Homo sapiens: one gene and its partners. The protein of the gene in region 2 purifies or fractionates together with the protein of the main gene of each other region. This does not show direct contact. Each region holds a gene or a part of one and is shown on either strand. Other genes may lie near its edges. The genes, in order: MYH8, SUGP1, RIDA, CUEDC2, THY1 and ZC3H11A.

The links.
Region 1: the proteins of SUGP1 (region 2) and MYH8 purify together in Homo sapiens (affinity purification with mass spectrometry; one large-scale study listed by BioGRID and IntAct). This does not show direct contact.
Region 3: the proteins of SUGP1 (region 2) and RIDA fractionate together in Homo sapiens (co-fractionation; one large-scale study listed by BioGRID). This does not show direct contact.
Region 4: the proteins of SUGP1 (region 2) and CUEDC2 fractionate together in Homo sapiens (co-fractionation; one large-scale study listed by BioGRID). This does not show direct contact.
Region 5: the proteins of SUGP1 (region 2) and THY1 fractionate together in Homo sapiens (co-fractionation; one large-scale study listed by BioGRID). This does not show direct contact.
Region 6: the proteins of SUGP1 (region 2) and ZC3H11A fractionate together in Homo sapiens (co-fractionation; one large-scale study listed by BioGRID). This does not show direct contact.

Annotation. Positions count from the first base shown.
Region 1 is NC_000017.11:10,415,381-10,419,329, reverse strand, and holds part of MYH8 (myosin-8), read left to right. Parts: intron 1-299; coding exon 300-443; intron 444-528; coding exon 529-685; intron 686-3,621; coding exon 3,622-3,649; intron 3,650-3,749; coding exon 3,750-3,858; intron 3,859-3,945; coding exon 3,946-3,949. UniProt on the Homo sapiens protein: Muscle contraction.
Region 2 is NC_000019.10:19,296,165-19,300,113, forward strand, and holds part of SUGP1 (SURP and G-patch domain-containing protein 1), read right to left. Parts: intron 1,181-3,949; coding exon 825-1,180; intron 1-824.
Region 3 is NC_000008.11:98,104,253-98,107,365, forward strand, and holds part of RIDA (2-iminobutanoate/2-iminopropanoate deaminase), read right to left. Parts: intron 2,075-3,113; coding exon 2,020-2,074; intron 1,755-2,019; coding exon 1,686-1,754; intron 293-1,685; coding exon 237-292; intron 1-236. UniProt on the Homo sapiens protein: Catalyzes the hydrolytic deamination of enamine/imine intermediates that form during the course of normal metabolism. May facilitate the release of ammonia from these potentially toxic reactive metabolites, reducing their impact on cellular components.
Region 4 is NC_000010.11:102,425,940-102,429,801, forward strand, and holds part of CUEDC2 (CUE domain-containing protein 2), read right to left. Parts: intron 1-3,862.
Region 5 is NC_000011.10:119,420,083-119,424,760, forward strand, and holds the start of THY1 (thy-1 membrane glycoprotein isoform 1 preproprotein), read right to left. Parts: upstream 3,091-4,678; 5' UTR 3,031-3,090; intron 2,707-3,030; exon of another isoform or gene 2,607-2,706; intron 2,481-2,606; exon of another isoform or gene 1,529-2,480; intron 848-1,528; 5' UTR 824-847; coding exon 787-823; intron 305-786; coding exon 1-304. UniProt on the Homo sapiens protein: May play a role in cell-cell or cell-ligand interactions during synaptogenesis and other events in the brain.
Region 6 is NC_000001.11:203,826,305-203,830,253, reverse strand, and holds part of ZC3H11A (zinc finger CCCH domain-containing protein 11A), read right to left. Parts: intron 1,956-3,949; coding exon 1,832-1,955; intron 804-1,831; coding exon 600-803; intron 475-599; coding exon 358-474; intron 132-357; coding exon 51-131; intron 1-50. UniProt on the Homo sapiens protein: Through its association with TREX complex components, may participate in the export and post-transcriptional coordination of selected mRNA transcripts, including those required to maintain the metabolic processes in embryonic cells.

The DNA of each region.
Region 1 (3,949 bases), on a different chromosome or scaffold from region 2:
TCCCAGCACTTTGGGAGGCTGAGGCAGGTGGATCACCTGAGATCAGGAGTTCGAGACCAGCCTGGCCAACATGGCGAAATCCTGTCTCTACTAAAAATACAAAAATTAGCTGGGCATGGTGATGGGCACTTGCAATCCCAGCTACTCAGAAGGCTGAGGCAGGACAATCACTTGAAGCAGGAGGGCGGAGGTTGCAGTGAGCTGAGATCGCGCCACTGCACTCCAGCCTGGGCAAAAAAAGCAAAACTCTATCTCAAACAAACAAACAAAAACGAACTGGTTTCTTGCTTACTCACCAGACTCTAACTGTCAGGGAAGACCAAGTCTTCCCTATGAACCCTCCGAAATATGACAAAATTGAGGACATGGCCATGATGACTCATCTACACGAGCCTGGAGTGCTGTACAACCTCAAAGAGCGCTATGCAGCCTGGATGATCTACGTGAGTGTCTGTAAACACCTTTTTATTTCATGTCTCTCTCTGAGTAAAAACGAGATCCAAATGATAAATGTTCTGATCTTCCCAGACCTACTCAGGCCTCTTCTGTGTCACCGTCAACCCCTACAAGTGGCTGCCGGTGTACAAGCCCGAGGTGGTGGCTGCCTACAGAGGCAAAAAGCGCCAGGAGGCCCCGCCCCACATCTTCTCCATCTCTGACAATGCCTATCAGTTCATGTTGACTGGTGAGTGAGTGAGGCATCTATTTACAGAAATGTGTAAATAGAATCTTTGCAGAACAGACAGACCTCTTCCGAGCCTCTTTATGTTATGATAATACATTCTAGCCACATGGGGCTTCACTGTTTTCAAAAAACTTTCACAGCTGTGACATCTTATGCTCTTCCCAGCAGCTACCTCCATTTTACAGATGAGTAAAGTGAAGCTCACTGAATTCACTGTCCTTCCCAAGCTAACACAGATAGTTAAGTGGAAGCCTAGCTGAAACAATTACTAGACCACTGTAAACATATTTATTGTTTTCCATATTTTGTTACTTTCCAATTTGGATAGAAAAAAGTGTTCAAACAGACTTTTTAAAAATACCCAGGCTCACAGCAGTCAACGAAAAGAGTTATCAGCCACAGCTGGAAAACTTTGTGAATTCTTATGTTTATTTTTGAATGACACAGCTAATATTGCCAGCCTTTAAGGGTAAAACATGAGTAAAGAAAGCTATGATTTTCCTCCCAAAGATTTGAAGCACTTTCCTATTACAATGAAAGGAAAAAATCTTTTCTGAGAAAAATGTTTAAATTGTATCAAAGTCTGTTACTCCTGCCTTATCAAGGCATAAACAACCAGCTTTGATACGCATTATAGGCCCAAATACAGCATTAAAACCTTTTATCTTCACACACCAAATGCACTGCCTTTGGAAATACTTTCTATTCCTGAGTTTCCTGTTGTTCCATGGAATTTTGGAAACTAAGGTGTTTTTTCTTTCTTTTTGGTTTGTTTTTTTGCACTTGTTTTTAAATTGTCTTTTCGAGGGGGAGAATAAAGAGGAAGGAATAAAATAGGAATCTCCCATTACAAATTGGCCATCAATTCTACAAGGATTCTATGCCAGTAAACTGTTCTTTGATTGTCAACAGAAGCTAACTACCTCCCAGAAATTATCCAAACGCTGGCTCATTTCAGAGGTTTTAATACTCAACAGCTGCATTTACACAGCTATGTACACCACCCCTGTCCTCCCACTCAGCAAGCCCCCCGCTCCCCAGGGTTTGGGGCTGCTCCAAATTCAAGGTTACTTATGGCTCCCAAACATGATTTTTGTACAAAATGGTACAGAGCTCTAGCCTTTGAGCTGGTGAGTGTTATTTTAGCATTGCCAAGAGACCAGAACATTGTTTTCTCATCTGTGCTTCCACTAGATGTGATATAATCTTCCACGGTTTTACTTATACTAGAAAACAAATCTATCTGAATAGGATGCAAAATCTGCATCGACTTCCCTGAAGAGAAGGCTAAAGTTTTCTAAAGTCTATGTCTATATCTACATCTAAATAACATCCAGATTTATATCTATTTTCCCTGAATAGATTTTTAGGTTTTAGAATTCTCTAAAATCTATAATCTAACACTATAGAATTAGAGATTTAACAAATCAGCAAATTGATGTAAATACAACATATCAGTCACATAATTAGTGACATTTGTTTTTATTATTTAGAAATGCATATAAGATTAAAAGGAAAATAAAACAGATGAACACAAATATTCACAATTCCAGACCCCTTCCTTATTTAGTATTGCCAGAAGTCAAACTAGTGACATCAAAAGCTGGGAAGAGGCCAGGAGGATATATTTGACCTTAACTAGCTATGTACTTAATATTAGAAAAGTCACTTCCTCCTTTACAGGTCTCAGTTTCTTTATCCCTTAAATGTAAGAGTTGGCCTAAGCAATTTCTAAGATCTTTTATGCCTTCAAAATTCTGTAATTCTAATTGAAGTATTTATAAATACAATTATAAGATTCTGGGATTTTCTTTAAAATAATTCAGTGAGATTGGGATGAGGTATAGATGATATAAAATTGGCCAAATATTAATAACCATTGCATCTGTATGATGGGCACATGGGGATTCATTATATTATTGTCTCTACTTCTGTATATGTTTGAATTTTCCATAATAAATGTTTTAAAAATTAATCAAATATGTACCTTACACTCGTTAGGATGTTTACTATCAAAAAATCAGAAAATAACAAGTTTTGACAAGAACTGGAGAAATTAGAACTCTTGTACACTGTTAGTGATCATGTAAAATGATCAGCCACTGTGGAAACAGTATGGTAGTTCCTCAACAAATTAGAAATAGAATTACAGTATGATCCCACAATTCTACTTCTGAGTATATCCCCAAAAGAACTGGAAGCAGGGTCTGGAAGAGACATTTGTACAACTATGTTAATAGCAGCATTATTTACAATAGCAAAAACATGGAAGCAACCCAAGTGTCCATCAACAGATGAATGGATAAGCAAAATGTGGTATATACATGCAATAAGATATCCTGCCTTTAAAAGGAAGGAAACTCTGACATATGCTAAAATATGAATGAACCTTGAGGACACCATGCTGAGTGAAATAAGCCAGTCACAAAAAAGACAAATACTCTATGATTCCTCTTACATGAGGTACCTAGAGTAGTCAAATTCACAGAGGCAGAAAGTAGAATGGTGGGCGCCAGGGAATGGGAGGAGTAGGAGATGGGGAGTTAAGAGTTTAAGGGACACAGAGTTTCAGTTTGACAAGGTGAAAAGAATTACGGAGATGAAGGGTGATGATGATTTTACAACTTTATGAATGTACTTACTGCCAGTGATCTCTACACTTAAAAATGGTTAAGATGGTAAATTTTATGTTATGTGTATCTCATCGCAATTAAAAATTAATAAATACAAAAAGGAAGAGATGATTCTTTGCTTTCATTTTCACAAATTTTACACTGAGAAGCAATTGGCTATTTTGGAGGATAAACACAAAATCAAAACCAAAGGTGACATCTTCAAAAAGTTAAAAAGAACAAGCTGTGTTTGATCTGAACTGATTCAATACTCTTCATATTAAATATGCATTTTTTAACGGATGATTTTGAATTCTTTCACAGATCGAGAGAATCAGTCCATCCTGATCACGTATGTGATTTTTTTTCTTCTCTGATTTGCAAGGATTGTCTTAGATGTTGACAATGCAGGCCATAGTTCTCTGATCTCTTCTCTGATTTCTGTTTGACAGCGGAGAATCTGGTGCCGGAAAGACTGTGAACACCAAGCGTGTCATCCAATACTTTGCAACAATTGCAGTTACTGGAGAGAAGAAGAAGGATGAATCTGGCAAAATGCAGGTAGGTCTGATAGCCAGAGTCAAAACCTCTGTCAAGGCTCTCAGACATCTGGAGTCCCAGATGTGAGAACTGCTCCTTCCTTTGCAGGGGA
Region 2 (3,949 bases):
TATTTTAAAAAAAGGTGAGGATACAGAAAAAGTGGAACCCTTGTGCACTGCTGGTGGGAATGTAAAATGGTGCACCTGCAGGTTCCTCAAAGTTAAAAGGAGAATTACAGGCCAGACGTGGTGGCTCATACCTGTAATCACAGCACTTTGGGAGGCTGAGGCGGGTGGATCATCTGAGGTCAGGAGTTCGAAACCAGCCTGGCCAACATGGTGAAACCCCATCTCTACGTCCCAGCACTTTGGGAGGCCGAAGCGGGAGATCACGAGGTCAGGAGATAGAGACCATCCTGGCTAACACAGTAAAACCCCATCTCTATTAAAAAATACAAAAAATTAGGCGGGCATGGTGGCGGGCACCTGTAGTCCCAGCTACTCAGGAGGCTGAGGCAGGAGAATGGTGTGAACCCAGGAGGCAGAGCTTATGGTGAGCTGAAATCGCACCACTGCACTCCAGCCTGGGCAACAGAGCGAGACTCTGTCTCAAAAAAAAAAAGAAAAAAGAAAAAAGAAAAAAAAGGCAGAATTGCAATAGGCCCAGCAATTCCACACCTAGGTATACCGACAAGAGAACTGAAAACGATTCAGATAGTCACAGCAGTATTATTCACAACAGCCAAGCAGTGTAAACAACCTCTGTGAATATAAGAGTTCATTCACAGATGAGTGGGTAAGCCAAATGTGGTATGTACACACAGTGGAAGATATGGCCACAGAAGGAATGAAATTCTGATACAAGCTACACTGTGGATGAACCTTGAAGACATTATGCTCAGTGAAAGAAGTCAGACCCTTCCAACACAGGGAGGGGGAGAGGGTCTGCCCACCTGACAGAGGCGAGGGAGAGGCATCCACGTCCCTCTGCACCAGTTCAGCAGGTGGGAGCTCTACCTTATCCTCTTCAGGCCCCCACCGGCTCTTCCGCTTCCTCTTCACGGTGGCTGCGGAGGCTGGCTTCCCGGGGGCAGCTGGAGCAGGGATGATAGTGGGCGCAGGCGTGGACGAGGCGGGGCAGGTGGTGGCTGGGGGTAAGGACCCTGACAGGGCCTCAGGAGGGGACTTGCGCTTCAGGCCGGGATCAGGTGCTGTGAAGCTGCCTGTGGAGCTGGCCTTGGCTTTCCGGAACTCCTCCAGCTTCTGTCGGTAGTACTTGTACCCTTGGCTATTGGGCTCATACAGAAAGCTGCAAAGGAGAGTTGGGGGGTGCAGTGTCAGCTGGGCCCGAGGCCCTGTCCCTGATTCTGGGCAGGAGCAGTTCTGGCCTTGTGTGCCCACGTTGGCCAGGGTCACTATATGGTCATGTCATAGTCACGGTCTCCACCATGACCTCCTGCCCTGCCAGGCCTCCTGGCAGTGACTGCTGGTTCTGGTGGCCCGATGCCCTTCCTTTGAACTGAGTCACTCCAATCCTCACCCTGTCTTTATCAGGCACCCATCACACTGTCATTGTTCACCCTGCTACAAAGGGAAAGGGCAGGGACCCTCAGACCCTTCCCCAGGGCCTGGGAAAAGTGAGACATTCACACCAAAAAATCTCAGATTGTGGGGAGACACCAGACACGAGACAGGGCAGAGGGACTTGTCTTGATCCCAAGGGCTTCTCAAATGCATCTTTGAGACAATGAACATCAGAACGGACCAAGGAGCTGATTTCTACCCCACGTGGGGGCAGGCAGCCTCAGGGAAGTGTGGCTTCCAGTGAGGCTGGGAGCACAGGTCTTCTCTGTCCCTACCCAGCCTGAGGAGCACAGCAGGTGGCGCTGGGTTCAGAGCCATGTTCCGCACCTACTGGCGCCTCTCGGACCGTACACATCCCCAGTCCACAGGACTGTCTTTGGGGTCTATGCCAAAAGGGAGAGTCTTGGCCCAGCTCCACATGGCAGAACACGGGAGAGAACTGAATGCATGTACAGCCCTGAAAGCATGTTACAGTGCTGAACAAGATGGGGCTGGACCTGCACTTGTGAATCTGGAGGGATGGTCATAGCACCAAGGCGTGCAACTAATGTGAATTAAAGGGTCAAGGATGCTGTGAAGTCCCTTTGTGTTACAGAGGCCGGGCGCGGTGGCTCACGCCTGTAATCCCAGCTCTTTGGGAGGCCGAGGCGGGCAGATCACCTGAGGTCAGGAGTTCGAGACCAGCCTGGCCGACATGGTGAAATCCCGTCTGTACTAAAAATAAAAAAATTAGCTGGGCGTGGTGGTACACGCCTGTAGTCCCAACTGCTCGGGAGGCTGAGGCAGGACAATCACGCGAACCTGGGAGGCGGAGGTTGCAGTGAGCCAAGACTGGGCCACTGCACTCCAGCCTGGACCAGAGTGAGACTCCATCTCAAAAAAATAAGATAAATAGTGAGCGAGCAGCAAGAGACCCCTTAGACAGTTTCTAGGTGAGCCTGTGTGTCTACGGCCCTGCTAACATCCGGTACCTCAAGAGGGTGGGACAGAAGGACAGGAGATGACAGCATCTTCTCTGTAATCCTGGGTCATGGTACACGTGTGACCCAGTGAGGAACATATGCAAAGATTAAGAGGTAAAAGCAACAACTGTTCAGGAGAGAAGGGAACAGTTGGTCAGATTTGGAAAAGACACTTGACAGCCGGGTGAGTTCAGACATGGATTTGAGAGGCCAAGCTGGGGAGGCTCACTTGCTAGGGCGAGCAGGCATCGGGGTGTGGGGGCCCCTTCCTGGTCTCAGCTGGTGCTTCACCCTGAGTGTCCTCCAGGATGGTCCAAGGATGCATCACAGTCCCCTGGAGGGTCTGCCCATCTCGGGGAGGGGGTTACAATGGCACTCAATGGTAGACCCCCATGAGGGGGAGAAAGTGGAGCCCCCCAACACCCCATCTAGAACACGGCTGGGTGCACCACCAAGGTTCCCCTCTGGTGGAACTAATCCCACCCTGAACCCAGGGATAACCACTGTTAAGGTGTTTCCTGCCAGTTTCAGCAAAGATTTATCTTAATAGAGCTGTGATCCTATACATATCCCAGTTTTAAAAAAAATTTCTGCCTCAAGCTGATGACATAAGCCTTTCCTATTAGAACAGTGGAAGCATGTTCACTGACTGGCCTTGCTTCAGTTCCCTCACACTGGGCTGCCAGCTCACATGGGTGCCTTCTGAAGGCGGCATACTCCACTGGGGAGATGTGCTGATGATTTAACCCACAGAGGTTGGACGCTGACTGTGTCACTGACTTTTCTTTTTTTTCTTCCTTTTTTTTTCTGAGACGGAGTCTTGCTCTGTCGCCCAGGCTGGAGTGCAGTGGCACAATCTCAGCTCACTGCAAGCTCCGCCTCCCGGGTTCAGGCAATTCTCCTGCTTCAGCCTCCTGACTAGCTGGGACTACAGACGCCCGCCACCACACCCGGCTAATTTTTTTTTTTTTTTGTATTTTTTAGTAGAGACGGGGTTTCACTGTGTTAGCCAGGATGGTCTCGATCTCCTGACCTCGTGATCCACCCCGCTCAGCCTCCCAAAGTGCTGGGATTACAGGCATGAGCCACCGCACCCGGCCTACTGACTTTTCATTACAGCTGATGCTCTATTGACATGATTTCCAGGATGTATCTCAGAAATGGGAGAATGACTAGTCCAAGGGATGGGCGTTTCCAGCTTTTCATTTTTTTTTTGTTTTGTTTTTCAAGATGGAGTTTCACTCTTGTTGCCCAGGCTGGAGTGCAGTGGTGCAATCTTGGCTCACCGCAACCTCCGCCTGCCGGGTTCAAGCCATTCTCCTGCCTCAGCCTCCCAAGTAGCTGAGATTGCAGGCATGCGCTAATTTTGTATTTTTAGTAGAGACGGGGTTTCTCCACGTTGGTCAGGCTGTTCTTGAACTCTCGACCTCAGGTGATCCACCTGCCTCGGCCTCCCAAAGTGCTGGGATTACAGGTGTGAGCCACCAAGCCCAGCCTCATTTTTTATTTTTTGAGATGGAGTCTTGCTCTGT
Region 3 (3,113 bases), on a different chromosome or scaffold from region 2:
TTTAAATTGTTTTTGTAGGGATGGCTGTCTTGCTATGTTGCCCAGGCTGGTCTAGAACTCCTGGCCTCAAGCGATCCTCCTGTGTTGGCCTCTCAAAGCACTGGGATTACAGGGGTAAGCCACCCTGCCCAGGCTACTTCTTTTAAGTTTCCTTTCACAGTGCTTAGTTTACTTATAGAAGGAAAACAATGTAGAAACTGAAAACTGTGTACATTAGTCATTTAAAGTGTACTTACTTTGGGTAAAGCAGCAACTTGGTAAGCAGCTCTAGCAGGAAAATTACTCTTGAAATCTGAATTTAAAAGAATTTCATTTTTTTAATAGAGAAGAGTTGAAAAAATAAAGATCAAGTGAAAATTTTTATTTTAGTTTTCAGATATTCTATTGTTATTCAATATCTACAATTAATAATCTGGCAAATATTTCATATACTAGTCAGTTCTTAGATATAAGCAACATTTATTTTTATTTTTTTGAAACAGAGTCTTGCTCTATCGCCCAAGGCTGGAGTGAAGTGATGCGATCTCAGCTTACTGCAACCTCTGTCTCCCATGTTCAAGAGATTCTCCTGCCTCAGCCTCCCGAGTAGCTGGGATTACAGGTGTGCACCACCATGCCTGGCTCATTTTTGTATTTTTAGTAGAGTCGGGGCTTCACCATGTTGGCCAGACTGGTCTCAAACTCCTAATGTCAAGTGATCCACCCACCTCAGCCTCTCAAAGTGCTGGGATTATAGGTGTGAGCCACTGCTCCTGGCCTTAAGCAACATTTTAAAAAAGAGGCTCACTATCAGATTTGTTTGATAAAATATTTTGCCATATGATTCCTATGATAGTTAATACTTTTTAAAATCTCTTAGCTTTCTGGCAAAAAAAAAAAAAAAAAAAAAAAAGAAATACATACCCTAACATTTTGATCTTGTTTGATGTGAATGGAGTTTTGTTTTTAAAGTGATATTTATAAACTATTTATCTAAATAGGGAACAAGTGCCCATCTCCAGAAATTTTGGCAAGTACTTCCTCTGCCAACTTTGGTCTTTTCTAATAATTTCTTCAGGAGAGAATAAGTAACGATGCTTTTTCCAAGTTATACCTTTGCCTCATCCCATTAGGTGTTGGGGACACCAATTTTCCCTACTATAACATCAATGTTAATAATAGCTAACATTTACTCAGTGCTTATAACACACCAGCATCTAAGTGCTTTACATGTTGTACTGACTCATTTAATCATTCCAACAACCCTATAAGTTAGGAGTATATTATCTCCATTTTGCATATGAGAAAACCAAGGCATAGAAATATTAAGTAACTAACTAATGAGTCTGAGAGAGCCAGGATAAAGATGGTGGCTGCACCATACAGCCACAGTAAATAAAATCTATGCATAAAAAACTTGTTAGGAGAGTTTAAAAAGCCTGAGAAGGATTTAATGAAATTAAGCTTTTGAAAAATGGATATGTAGGATTTCAGTATATTGTTTTAGGGAATGCAATAGAAATGTCTTAGAACTTTTTCATGGGGGGTATACAACATATTTCCAATCAGATTATTAATTCTTTTAAGATCTATGACCATTTCTTTAGCATCTCCTACCACTCTTAATTCATAATGCACATTCATTAATGTGACCAGATTTCTTTCTTTTTAAAAATGGAAAATAGGAATAAAGCCAAATTACTTACACTGTTTGTAGATTTCATTGACAGTATTGAAGTCATTTATGTCAGCCAGAAGAACAGTTGTTTTCACCACTAGAAGATATAAACATTGTCATTAGGTTTAGTTATTTGGTCTGACCCAAAACATTACTTAGAAAAAGAGTGTATGAATCTGAGACTGTCTTGATTAAAATGGGACTGAAATGGGACCAAAGAAGTGAAGTAGAACAGTTGCTATTTAAAACAACTTTTAAATAGCAACAAAGATATGGCACGGCATCTTACTGGATGCCATATATTTTTCAAAAAGACCAAAGAAATATCAAAAAGAAATGTGAAATAATATCAAATTGCTCACCGTTAGTGAAGTCACAGCCTGCAGCTTTCAGAATTTCACCCATGTTTTTAAGAGCCTGTGAACCAAGCCAAGAAAGGCCTAAGTCACTGATGTTAGATTTAAAGCTTTAATTAAATTCAATTAATCATCTTTTACTAATACCTCCTTAAATAGCCTATGTTGCAGAAAAATCCTCCCTACTCGCTTACAAGTGTGTTTCTTGGCTTTCCTTTAATAGAATGAGTCTTTCTGATATATGGTGAAAATGTTGTCTCCTTTTGTGCGTAAAAAGACTAGGTTGAAGTTCCTTCTTCAGTGCTAAAATGTGTTAATTGTTCAGCCAATGTCCACAGAAATAATTTCTGGTGTTCTTCATTCGATATCACGTCAAGGATAAGGATGAGCTAGTAAGCATTAAAACATATTTTCTTTTAAAGCAATATTTGACTTCAAAGGGTTCTTTTTCCTTTTTCTCAAAAAAACAATATTAGTAAATTATATAACAGTTGGAGACACTGGCTTCTGGAAAAACATTTATCTTTTTTTGGATTCACTCTTCCCACTTTGCTGGTCACAATGCAATATTTCATTATATTCTTGTGTCTTTTAAAATAATCTTCTAAATAGGTAATACATGGATATGGCAACAACAACAACAAAAAAACTCAAAAGCTATTAAAAAAGCATATACCGTGTAAAGATATCTCTCACCCCTCTCTCCCTCTCCCAAGTTTCCCTCCTCAGAGGTAACCACTGTTCCTAATTTATTGTATATCCTTCTAGGTACAGTCAATGCTTATGTTACATATTTTTAAACACACAAGCACACATGGTAGCATACTGTGCATGTTGTTCTGCATCTTGGTTTTATTACCATGGAACAATTTACCTCGGAGATCTTTCCACATTACTTTAGTTGTATTGATCTAGCATAATTTATTCAACCAGTTCTTTATGAGTGGATATTTAGGTTTTTAAAAATCTTTCAGCTAGGCCGGGTGTGGAGGCTCATGCCTGTAATCTCAGCACTTTGGGAGGCTGAGGTGGGTGGATCATGAGGTCAGGAGATCGAGACCATCCTGGCTAGCACGGTAAAACCCCGTCTCTACTAAAAA
Region 4 (3,862 bases), on a different chromosome or scaffold from region 2:
CTCGTCCAGTCACTCCTCAGGGCTCCGCTCAAATGTTACCTCCTCAGAGAGCCCTTCCCTGACTAACCTATGGCAAGTAAGTCTTCTCCATGCCCCTTAACCCTACATAGCACTTACTACCATTAACATTATTTTGTGCTTATTTGCCTATTGTCTGTCTGCCCCCATAAAATGGAAGCTCCAAAGCAAGGTGGGGATGAGGGGGACACTCTGTCTTATTCATGAGTGTAACCCTAGCACCTAGAAAAATGCCCATACTGGCTAGGTGCTGAATACATACCTGTTGACATGCTCCATTCCCATCTACATGCTTTTGACTCCCAAAAGTCTGTTTGGGAGTCAGGAGCATATGGGTGGTAATGAATGGCTCCAGACCCATAGGTCCAAATGCCAGCTCATCATCCCACTCAGAAGGCTCCGAGGCACCACCAGTTCCACGCACCTCACACTCATCATAGACTACTGATCTGCGCACATCCCCCTCCAAACACACATCTGCTTCATCAGCTGACACCACTCACTCAGCTGCCAAAGCTGAAACCTGGGGATTACCCTTGATTTTGCCCTCTTTCACCCCTACCAGTCAATCACCAAGTCTGTCAATTCTATTTCCTTCTTTCCTTCTTATCTGCATTGTATCCACTTCTCCCTATCCTGAGTCTGGCTTCTGCTCCAAAATCTCCACCAAAATTTCTTCTTTTTCTTTTTTTTAGGCAGGGTCTGGCTCTGTCACCCAGGCTGGAGTGCAGTGGTATGATCTCGGCTCACTGCAACCTCCATCTCCCCAGCTCAAGCCATCCTCCTGCCTTAGCCTCCGGAGTAGCTGGACTACAGGCACACACCACCTACTAGTTTTTTGTTGTTGTTGTTTGTTTGTTTGTTTTAGTAGAGATGCAGTTTTGCCATGTTTTGAGTCCAGGGTTCGAGACCCAGGCTGGTCTCGAACTCCTGGGCTCAAAGCAGTTCGCCCACCTCAGCCTCCCAAAGTGCTGGGATTACAGCCATGAGTCACCGTGCCCGGCCTCAAAATTTCTTAGACTGAGGTCATCAGTTACTTTTTCCAGGTTTTAGTCTAATTAGGTTGAACCATATGAGCTTGCCAATTTTGTCTGGTTTTGATCTACAAAAAAAAAGGGGGGAATTTCTCATGATTTCACCTTCTATTTGCCCTTTCAGCAGCTCCAACTTTGGTTTCTGAGATGCCATTCTTTCCTGGTTTCCTTCTACCTCTCTGGCCATTTCTTCGAAGGCCCTTTCTCTGTCCCCTTCTCTGCTCCCCTCTAAATGTGGGAGTTCCTCACATGCAAGGCTGCCTCTCCTTCTCACTGCAGCGCTCTCTCTCTCTCTGGAAGATCTCATCTGGGCCCACATCTTTATGTACCAATGCCATGTCATCAATTCCCAAATGTCCAGTCCTCTAGTCCAGTCTCCTCTGAGCTACAGGCTTGGACATCTACCTCTCTAACACTGCCACGTGTATGTTTTACAGGCATCTCACAGTTAGCGTGTCCCAAACTAATGTTCTCTCAAGTGCTTTACTCCTCCAAGGCCATTCTCAGTAAATGCATGTCCAGGCACCCGGCTGTTCCTGCCACAAATCTGGGAAATATCCTTGACACCATCCTACCCCTTGCTCTCCCTCATCCAATCAGTCGCCAAGCCCTAATCATTATCTCTTGCCACATCTATTTCTCTCCATCTCTACTCCCACTTTTCTCCATCTCTTGCCTGCAAGAACTTCCTAACCCTTCTCCCCACTCCATCTTCCCCCCAACAACCTATTCTCCACACCACAGCTGTGTGATCTTTACAAAAAAATCACATCTTTTCCTGCTTAAAATCTATCAATGCCTTCCTGCTACCCTTCAGGGAAGTCCAGAATCTTTTCATGGCTTTCCATTGCCGTCCTTACCCTGTCTATATCTCTCTCCAGCTTCACCATGCACCATACCTTCCTGGATCATTTCCCTCCCTCCACCCTGGCTTTGTTTTTTGTTTGTTTGTTTGTTTTGTTTTGTTTTTGAGACAGCCTCACTCTGTTGCCCAGGCTAGAGTGCAGTGGTGCCATCTTGGCTCACTGCAACCTCTGCCTCCTGGGTTCAAGCGATTCTCCTGCCTCAGCCTCCCGAGTAACTGGGATTACAGACATGTGCACCACACCTGGCTAATTTTTGTATTTCTAGTAGAGACAGGGTTTCACCATGTTGGCCAGGCAGGTCTTGAACTCCTGACCTCAGGTGATCCACCTGCCTTGGCCTCCCAAAGTGCTGGGATTACAGGCATGACAAAGCACCCGGCCCCACCCTGGCTTTCTTTCAGTTTGCTAACACTCAAACTCTTTCATGGCAAGGTAGTATACCCTCTGAGCCTTCTGCCTCATCATCTGAGTGGGACAATGAGCTGCCATTTGGACCTATGGGTCTGGAGCCATTCATTACCACCCACATGCTCCTGACTCCCAAACAGACTTTTGGGAGTTAAAAGCATGTAGATGGGAATGGAACATGTCAACAAGTATGTATTGAGCACCTAGCCAGCACGGGCATTTTTCTAGGTGCTAGGGTACACAAACTATTTCCTCTGCCTGGGCACCCTTCTGCCTCCACCCCTTCACTTACTGTCACTCTGATCTTTTGGGTCTCATTTTAAAATTCCCTTCCTTGGCTGGGCACGGTGCCTCATGCCTGTAATTCCAGCACTTTGGGAGGCTGAGGCAAGAGGATCGTTTGAGCTCAGGAGTTTAAGACCAGCCTCGGCAACATATCAAGACCCCATCTCTCTTTTTGTAGAAAAATATTTTTAGGCCAGGCACGGAGGCTCATGCCTGTAATCCCAGCACTTTGGGAGACCCAGGGGGTTGGATCACGAGGTCAGGAGATCAAGACCATCTTGGCTAACACAGTGAAACCCCGTCTCTACTAAAAATACAAAAATTAGCTGGGTGTGGTGGCACGCGCCTGTAGTCCCAGCTACTCAGGAGGCTGAGGCAGGAGAATGACATGAACCTGGGAGGCGGAGGTTGCAGTGAGCCGAGATTGCACCACTGCACTCCAGCCTGGACGACAGAGTGAGACTTTGTCTCAAAAAAAAAAAAAAAAGAAAAGAAAAATATTTTCAAATAAAAATAAAATAATTCCCTTCTTCCTCAAGGGACATCACCCCTGACCTAGAACTCATTTGGGCCCTGCCATATTACACTCTCTATGCAGGCTGCAAGTTTTCTGACTAGCAGCACCTTTCACAGCCATAATTATTATTTGGACAATGTTTAATGTTTCTTCCAGTTGTCTCATGAAGCAGGGACTAAACACCGGGCTGACATTCACCAGTGTATACTCAGCATCTCTCATGAAGTGGGCACTCAATAAACAGTTGAACCCCAATTTACCTATGAAGAAATGAAGTTCAGTGTGTTTAATGACTTGCCCAGAGTCACCTGGCTTGACTGCGGTAGTCAGATTTAAATCCAGGTCACCTAGTTCAGCATCTATTCTAGGGGCTACTCTGGGGAAGGGAGGATATCAAGACTTTCAAGTGGGTTGGGACAGGGCTACCTTCTATGCTTACAGTTGCCTGGTCCCGAGTGGTAACAGAGTTGCTCATAGCACAGGGGTCACTTTGGAAAGCAGGACTGAGAAGCCCCAGCCTACCAGGGGAATTCATACCACCTGCGCCAGAGCCCTCATGGGCCCTGAGGAAGAGCAGAATGGCTCAGCCCAGGCATACTAGATCCCATCATGCAGCTCCCTCAGGGTAGAACCGCCTCCAGGGACCTACCTCGACCCTGGGTTACATCACCCTCGAATCCTGGGCTGTCAGTTGCATGGTAGCCTCTGCCGGGACAAAGGCCCATGGCTGCTGC
Region 5 (4,678 bases), on a different chromosome or scaffold from region 2:
GGTGGGGAATGGCCAGAGTGGTGGAGTGCACACGTGTAGGTGCCCTCGTCCTTGCTAGTGAAGGCGGATAAGTAGAGGACCTTCATGTTGTATTTGCTGGTGAAGTTGGTTCGGGAGCGGTATGTGTGCTCAGGCACCCCCACAGTGCCAAAGAGCACGTGCTTCTTTGTCTCACGGGTCAGGCTGAACTCGTACTGGATGGGTGAACTGCTGGTATTCTCATGGCGGCAGTCCAGACGAAGGCTCTGGTCCACTAGGCAGGCCGTTAGGCTGGTCACCTTCTGCCCTCGGGAGACCTGCAAGACTGGCACCAGCAGTGCCTCCTTCAAACTGGAGGGGCCTGCGGCACAGGGGCCTCCCACCCACCTGAAGTGGAGAGATGGGCCTGGCTAGGGAGGGGACCGGGGTCTGCTCTCTGAGTGCCTTTCCCCACCCCAGGGATCCCACTTCTCCTTTGCAGACCCCAGCCTCCCTCCCCACTCTGCTTGAGCCTTGGATCCTATCAATGTGTTTCAAGGACAGGAGATCTTAGGGAGTTGATGCTGGTTCCGGGTTCTCAGTTGGGGATTCTAGTTCAATAGTGTGAAGGAGGGCTCAGCAAACTGTGTTTTCAAAAACCACCTCAGGCCGTCAGAATATCAGCGCGGTGGATTGGCTGACTTCAGGATGAAAAAGAGCCCTCTCTTTGTCACCTGCGCTTTTCTGAGACTGTGAGGGAGAAGCTGCTTCTCTGGAGGGAAGGAAGCCAGGGCGCCTGGAGCCCCAGTCCTGCCCCATGCCGGGTACCTGTTAGCAGGAGAGCGATGCTGATGGCCAGGTTCATGGTTCTGGGATCTCAGTCCTGGATCTGGGGTGGGAACAGGATGGGAATCAGCCAAGCTGTGCCACACTTACCACCAGGGCTGGGGGTCCCTGGGAACATGGCATAGTGGCTATGGCAGTCATCTAAGTCCCTCTCTCCATTCCCCCTCTCGTCCCTGCATCTCACTGAACATGATACTGCCACTGGCTCTTTCCTGCTCAGGGAAAGCAAGGAAGGAGGGAGAACAAGCCCAGTCACGGTGTGTTTCTGCGCTTGGCCATGGAGCACTTACTAGCTGGGTGACTTTAAGTAACTTTACCACTCTTTCTCCTCTTCTTACATTAACATAGTGTATGGTAATATAAGACCTATGAGGGCTGAGGCTTCGTATTTAAAAAAAAAATTTAATCGTGGTAAAATACAAAAAGCATAATAATTACTATTTTAACCATTTAAATTCAGTACTTAAATTCAGTATATTCAGCAGTGCTGGATACATTCACGTTGCTATGCAGCCCATCTCCGGAACTCTTTTTGTCTTTCAAAGTAAAACTCTGTATCTGTTAAACAAAGACTCCCCATTTAGGGACTTCCCATTTCCTGTTCAGAAGAAAATCCCCAATGCTCAAAACCGTTTCCGTTTGCAGATTACTGGCATATAGCATACACTCCAAAGATATTTATTGTGAATGAATGAATGAATCTCTCTGAATCTTACATACCCACCGGGTTATGATGGGGGTTAAGAAAAACAACCAACATCTGGCGATGACTGCTTCATATACGTGAGACACAAATCCCTAAGTCACTCGCCATCCCCAGTGGATGGCTAGATACCATTCACCATAGCTAAGGATGCTCCCAGATAGGGAGCATCTATTCCTATCTGGATAGGACACAAGCTAATCGTGTTCCTGGAGGAGAGAAAGACATAGTGATCTCCGATTGTATGTGAGCCAAGGATGCTTCCCAATGTCCAGCTCTCTGGAGTTCCTGGGACTGCAGTTTTCCAGCCCAGTTTCAATAGCCACCCTGGATAGGCTGTCTGCCTGGTCTTTTTTTGTTTTTTGCAGCCTTGGCTGAACCAACCCTTGGCGAGGCGACGCGGAGCCGGTAGTCTAGCCTATCTGCAGAGCAGTGCTCGCCCAGGAGAGGCCACAGAAGGGGCGTGCACCCGCGAGAGCGCGCAGGGCATTGCCTCGGTTGAGTGCGCCCGGGTGCGCAGGGCGCACCACTAGACGAGTTCAGGGTCCCTGGCGCTCAGCCCCTTGACGGGTGAGGCTAGGATCCCGCGGCGGCTGCAGCTACAATCAATGCTCTCTCTGTCCCGGGGTGGAGCTGCTGCCCTGAGCCAGATCCAGGAGGAAGGGGGGTCGGCATCTGGCTTTTGAATCGAGGACTCTTGTTTGAGATGTTGTGCGGGCTTGGGATCTAGGAGGGGAAGGGGGAGCAATGGCCAGAGCAAGAAAGGGAAGAAATGGGTCTGGGGCTGGAGAGGGTAGAAGAGCCAGGGGAGGGGTGGAGAGCGGCTGGGGAGGTGCAGTCTGTATTCATTTCCTCTGGTCTGTGTCCTCAGGCGGCTCCAGACCCAGAGAAGGTCTGCTCTTCCTCCCTCTCAAGCCCCCGGCGGGCCTCATCCTTAATCCATTTCCGTATTCCAATCCTCTCCTTTCCCAAATGAGTCCCCCTTCCCCCTCTCTCATCCTTTTCCAGCTCTCCCCTCCCCCGTCCGCCCGCCTTCCACCCAGTCCCCGCCTGCGGCACTGCGGCTTCCTTCTCCTCCGGTGCCCCGCACCCAGCCCGCCGCGAGGTCACCCGGCAGATTCCCTCTAGCTCGCCATCCTCCATCCTCTCCCCGCAGTTTCATCCGTCCTCCTCCCCGCCTCTGCGAGCTGGGTTTGGGGACGTCTGGGTGGAATGTAGACCCACAGGCTGTCCTTGGTGCCCTTCCTCCCTGTTCTCCAGCGCCCCAGCCCCAGACACCAGTCCCCCAGCGGGCGAAAGCCCGGGAGCGCCTTCCCCGAAAGACATCAGGGTGCCACGCGGCCCCTGCCCTGCAGAAGCATCCCCCTCCCGCCCCTGCCTGGAAAGCAGGCCCCTCCCTAAGCTCTGCGCCCTTCTTCCCTGGGCGCCCTCGGACCGTGGCCCGAAGCCTAGTGTTGGGAAGTCTTGCATGGGCGCCTGACGGCGGTCCCCGAGCCCCAGGTCCCACCGGCTCCAGTTCCCACCTGGACTGGGGTCTTCCGCTGCTGCAGCCTCCTCCAGACGCGCCGCCGCCTCCGGTTGCTGCACCCAGCTCGGAGCCCGCAGTTTTCACCGGGGATGGAGGAGAGGGGGAGCGGGGAGCCGGGGGCTCAGCCAATCAGAGGCGGAGATTGGGGGAGAAAGGACGGCAGGGTGGGGTGGGGGGTGGGGAAGGAAGAGAAGGCGGTCCCGCATTGGTGTGAGAGTGGCAGGTTGCGGCGGAAGGGGGCCCTCACCCTGTGGCTGGCAGGCCTGGCCAGGGACGGGAGGGTTCGGGACCCCGGGGATCAGGGTGCGGCAGCCCAAAGAACATTATCCTCCTCCCTGAGCCCCGCAATGGTTGTTCCCCTTTTAAGGCTTTAACCCTTTCTTCTGACCTATTCTTCAGGAGTCTGTGGGAAAACCAAAGTGTAAGAGGTGCAGGATGCAGGCCGGGAGCGCCCACGCCTCCACATTTCCTTTTCAGCTGGAGCCCACCTCCTCCGGAGCCTCCAGTGAGAAGTTTTGGAATATTCCAGTCTTTCTGAAAGGAAGCTGGTTGGGTGTTTTTCAGTGTTGGAGCAGCCCTTCGGAAGCGAGGCAGGTGCTGGACCCACCCTGTCCGTCCCTGGTCCCCAGCCCCATTTCGCCCCCTCATCTATTCCAGAGCACCCAGCCCTTCAGGGGGCTGCAGGCGCTTTTTGCTCTGGGCATTACGTCTTCTTCAGCCCCTGGGCTGGCACCTTCTGGTCCAGACAGCTGGAAGGTTCTTCTGGCTTTCCTGAGTACAGTCTGCTTGTTTGGTCTTCAGACCAGGAAGGGAGTGTTGCCTTTTAGCAGGCACTGTGCTGGGCACATTACATTCATGGCGACCTTTAACCCATGGCCGCCTGCTGGGTTCATCCCATCTCAATCCTCACCTCCTGTCTTGGCTGGTAAGTGGGAGAGCTGGAGAACTGACCTGGGCTATGGACCCCAGCTCTCAAGGGTGAGCCATTCCTCTTGCTCATCCCTGCCTAGTGGGAGAAGAGAGAGAGGAACTCTGGGAAAGAGGAGGAGACAGCACAAAAAGGACTGAGTCGAGGCCAACTCCTGATCACCTGGGGCACTCCTGATAACCCACCGATTGGATGTCACCAGAAGCCCTAGGCTCATTTTTAGAGACAGTGCTGATGACTTTCTCTCACTCACAGGTGTAGTGAATTTTTTTGAACTAACGTTTATTTGATTGATTTGTATCCTGCCAGCCTCTTTATGAATTCTGATCACGACATTCTGTGGGCCTCCCCAATGTCTGCCTGCCTGTTCTCCTATTTCTTCATGGAAGTCAGCCCTGGCACCTTCCCTGCAGTTTCTGATACTGCAGTGGCACTGTTGGAAGCCACTGTTGGAAGCTTGCAAGTGGGAGGAGATTCGCTTGGTTTCCCAGCATTTAGGGTGATGGAACACTCTAACTGGAATGAGCCTTGCAGATGGTTAAGTCCAAAGGAGCTATTCACTTTGGTAAACTGCAGAGGTTTCTAGGGCATTTTATGAAAAATGCAGCTGGCCTTGCCCACCTAGGACCTCCTTAATCTAGTACTAGAGCCAGCTGAGTCTGCACTTTTCTCACGCTCCCCAGGATCTGGGGACTCTAACACATGATCTGGTAAG
Region 6 (3,949 bases), on a different chromosome or scaffold from region 2:
ATTCTTCCCTAGCAACATACAACTATCCATGCCAAAACGTGATGACTTACCACCTTGCTTCTTAGATTTTTCCTTCATTTTCTTTGACTTAATTTCCTCAAGAGTTTTTATTCCAAAATTCAAACATTCACCTGAAAATTCAAATAGAAATTTTATGAGGAACGGGAGCCTTTTCATCTTTGTATTTTATCTGTACATAGCAGGCATTTATTTTTGAATAAATGATCAACAGAAACTAAGTATAGGTAAGTATGCGTGTAGCATGGGAAAAAGAAGAGGGAGGTCAATGATTGTGAACTAAATTTCAAAGGTAGTTTCAACAGTGCTATAAGAGGCACCAATCTAGCCTCTTCTTACCTTGCTTTATATTGACTGCAGGTTTCCGGACAGAAGTCACTCGTAATCCATTGTGAACTTCAGGAGTTGGTTGCAGGGTAGGTGTTTTGGTTTCATCACCTTCCTCAGAAAACTGATCTATATATCAACATTTAAGGCAAATTCACAATTAAAAATACGCCTATAGCTTTAATCCTGATTCTGCCCAATTCACTATGAGACCCTATTTATTTGCCTTAAAGAAGGAGCCAGACAGAACTTACCATCATCATCTTCATCATCATCTGCAGCATTAATTACAACTGGTGGATGCGTGGGGCTAGGAACATTTTCGGAACTTTCTACTTTCATAACGCTCCGCAGCTGAGGGGAAGGATTGGACTGGACAGACAATTTGTTCTGCTGAACTGAAAGTTGGCTAGCCTTCACTTCCTCTTCTGGTGACTCAGGCACAGTGGGCAACACAGCTAAACGCACAAAATCAGTCATAAATTAAAAACAGAAGATACAACCCCAACTTACCAAAAATTCCTGACCACCTATGAAAACTATAGTGTATTTGTCTTATGAGCATTTATACTAAATTTCCTCATTTAAGTTCTAAAGTCCCAGGGAGGGAAAAGATGTGCTTTTACCTAATTAACTCTCCACTAACTCTCCACTGTACATAAACACAAAGTGGGCACTCAAAACAGAATCAACAGAAGACTAGAAGAAGCATAGTACCTGTTCACAAATTCTAGACCTTTAATTTTAATACTGCAATTCTAGGCTTTTTGCTCAGCAAAGAAGTAGCTTCTAAGACCCAAGCATATGACACTTACTTGAACCAAACCAGAAAGGAATAAGTCTACTTTTTTCCCTTAAATTGAGGTAAAAAGATGTAGCCATCAAATTTTAATCACGTAGCAACTGTGGCTTTTAAATGGCCAATTCCACTTTTAAATTACTTTAAAATGAACTTTGGGAATAACCACTAGCTTTTTAGTTTTATTTTAGATTATAGTCTAGAGTAGGGTTGGCAAATATTTTCTGTAAAGAGCCAGTTAATAATTTAGGCTTTGTGGGCCATATGGTTTCTGTCTCAACTACTCAATTCTATAGCACTAGCACAAAACTGATAATAGAAAATATGTAAATGAATGGGCAAGGCTATATTCCAATAAAACTTATTTTACAAAACAGGCAGAGGACCAGTTTTGCCAACCTTTGACCTAGAAAATCAAATTTATTTTGAAAACGTTTATGGGTCTGATAAGAATATGAGAAATGAAGTAAGTATAATAACTTAAATGGCATGCCAAGATATATAATGGTTCTAAGGCCAAGGATAAATCATTTAACCTTAATAAGATTCAGTTCACTTATCTGTAAAGTGGAAATAATTCTGCTGTTTCACAAGACTGAAAGGAGTCAATGTCTGAAAAGTACTGTTGTACAGTGTGCATAATAGGTGTTCATTTGATATTCTTTTAAAATTAAAAACTGATCTCACTTTTGCTCGGAGGTAGGAAAAGGCCATCAACATATCGTCCTCTATTGTGATGGAAAGCGCAGTTTAATTTTTGACATCCTGTTGGCTGATTTTCCCAATAACAAGGAATTTCACTGCGTTTTTTCTGTAAGAGGGAAAAACACATTGCTTTCAAATAAAACAGTGATACGTATATTCATGTGGCAGTTTGTTTTCTAGACAAAGTTCATACAGGGTTCAAAAATCCGAGGCATGTGAGATGAGATGATTTTTAGAAGGAAGAGAGATTGCTGAAAATAACATAACTTAGGCATGATGGAGAGCTGAATGGAGCAGGAGAGTAGTTTATGTTATTCTTTCCCTTTTTACCCTCATCCTGGAACCCCTAAAATGTCTACACTTAATTTAGAGAAGCAGGATGATACAGTAGTTTAAGTTTATGAAATCAAAGATAACGGTCTGAATCTCTATTATGTTACTTATTGGCCAGGTGGCCTTGGATAATTCATGCCTCTAAGCCTCACTTTCCTTAGCTATAAAACGGGAATAAATGGTTTCTTATGAAGAGTACATAAAATAATGTATATAAAGCACTAAGCACATAGGTCAAACTCAATAAACTGCAGTTATTACTTGAAGCTGAGAGTTCAAGGGTTTGAGAAAATTCTTCCCATTCATGAATTCTCAAAGTAAGGCACCTATAACAACACACTAAGGATGTTAGGTATCCTTCCCAAGTCACCTTACTTTTTTTTTTTTTTTGAGACAGAGTCTTGCTCTGTCACCCAGGCTGGAGTGCAGTGGCGCGATCTCCGCTCACTGCAAGCTCCGCCTCCCGGGTTCACGCCATTCTCCTGCCTCAGCCTCCAGAGTAGCTGGGACTACAGGTGCCTGCCACCACACTCGGCTAATTTTTTTTGTATTTTTAGTAGATAAGAGGTTTTACCATGTTAGCCAGGATGGTCTTGATCTCCTGACCTCGTGATCCGCCCGCCTCAGCCTCCCAAAGTGCTGGGATTACAGGTGTGAGCCACCGCACCCGGCCAGTCACCTTACTTTTATAAAGGAAAATTGGGAGAAAAAAAAAAAAAAAGAATACCTGTGCATCTAGAATAGAATAAACTGCTGAATCATAGGATGTATGTCCTAGAAAAATATATACATTAGTTCTCCAACAGCTGTGTATAAGCAATGTTCACAGCAATATTATTTTCAATAGCTCTATAATTTTGCAAACCCATGTGTACATCAATACTAGAATGGATAAAGAAACTGTAAAGTATTCGTACAACAGAATATCATCTAGTAATGAGAAGGAATAAACCATTGCTATACTCAATGCCACAGATGTGAAATGAAAGAAGCCAGACACAAGAGTGCATACTATACCATTCCATTTATGAAAAGATGAAAACAGTCAAAACTTCTCCATGGTAGAGTAGTTGGGATGCTGATCAGCTTTGGGGATGTGGTTAGTAACAAGGGGATGAAGGGGAAGATAGATTACTGCTAATACTCTATTTCTTGAACTAGGTGCTGATCAAGTAAGTATAATCACTCTATGAAAATTCTTCAAGTTGTAAGATTACGATTTTGCACTTTTCTAGATACATTTTAATAGTTCAAAAAAGGGGGAAAAAAGATATGAGAAGTACTCCCAAAAACTAACTAACCTCCGATGAACTGCATTATGTCGAATCTCTAATCATCATAAACAGCCTATGGTTTAAAATTCCAGGAAAAAACACCAGCATTGAAATTTAAGAATATGGAGAAGAGAGACAGAGAAACAATAACCATTACAAAAAGATGCTTAAATGTATCAAAAAGGGCAAAGGTCAAAATCTACTATATTGAGAGAGTGATAAAATTCAATTATACACTGTTTTCAGGGACGTGGAAGAATCAGGCAGTCTCAAACACATAATGGAAATGTAAATTTGCTCCACATCTCTGAAAGGTGATTTGGCAAAATCAGTTTTTTAAAACTATGTTCTAAGTTTATGTCATATGCATAATTACCTATTAATATTTTTAAAGTATAATTTTTAAAAAGAATTAATTATTATTAATCAATATTTATTTATTAATTTTAATATTATTGATATTTTCTAAAAGTATAATATTTTTTAAAAGTAT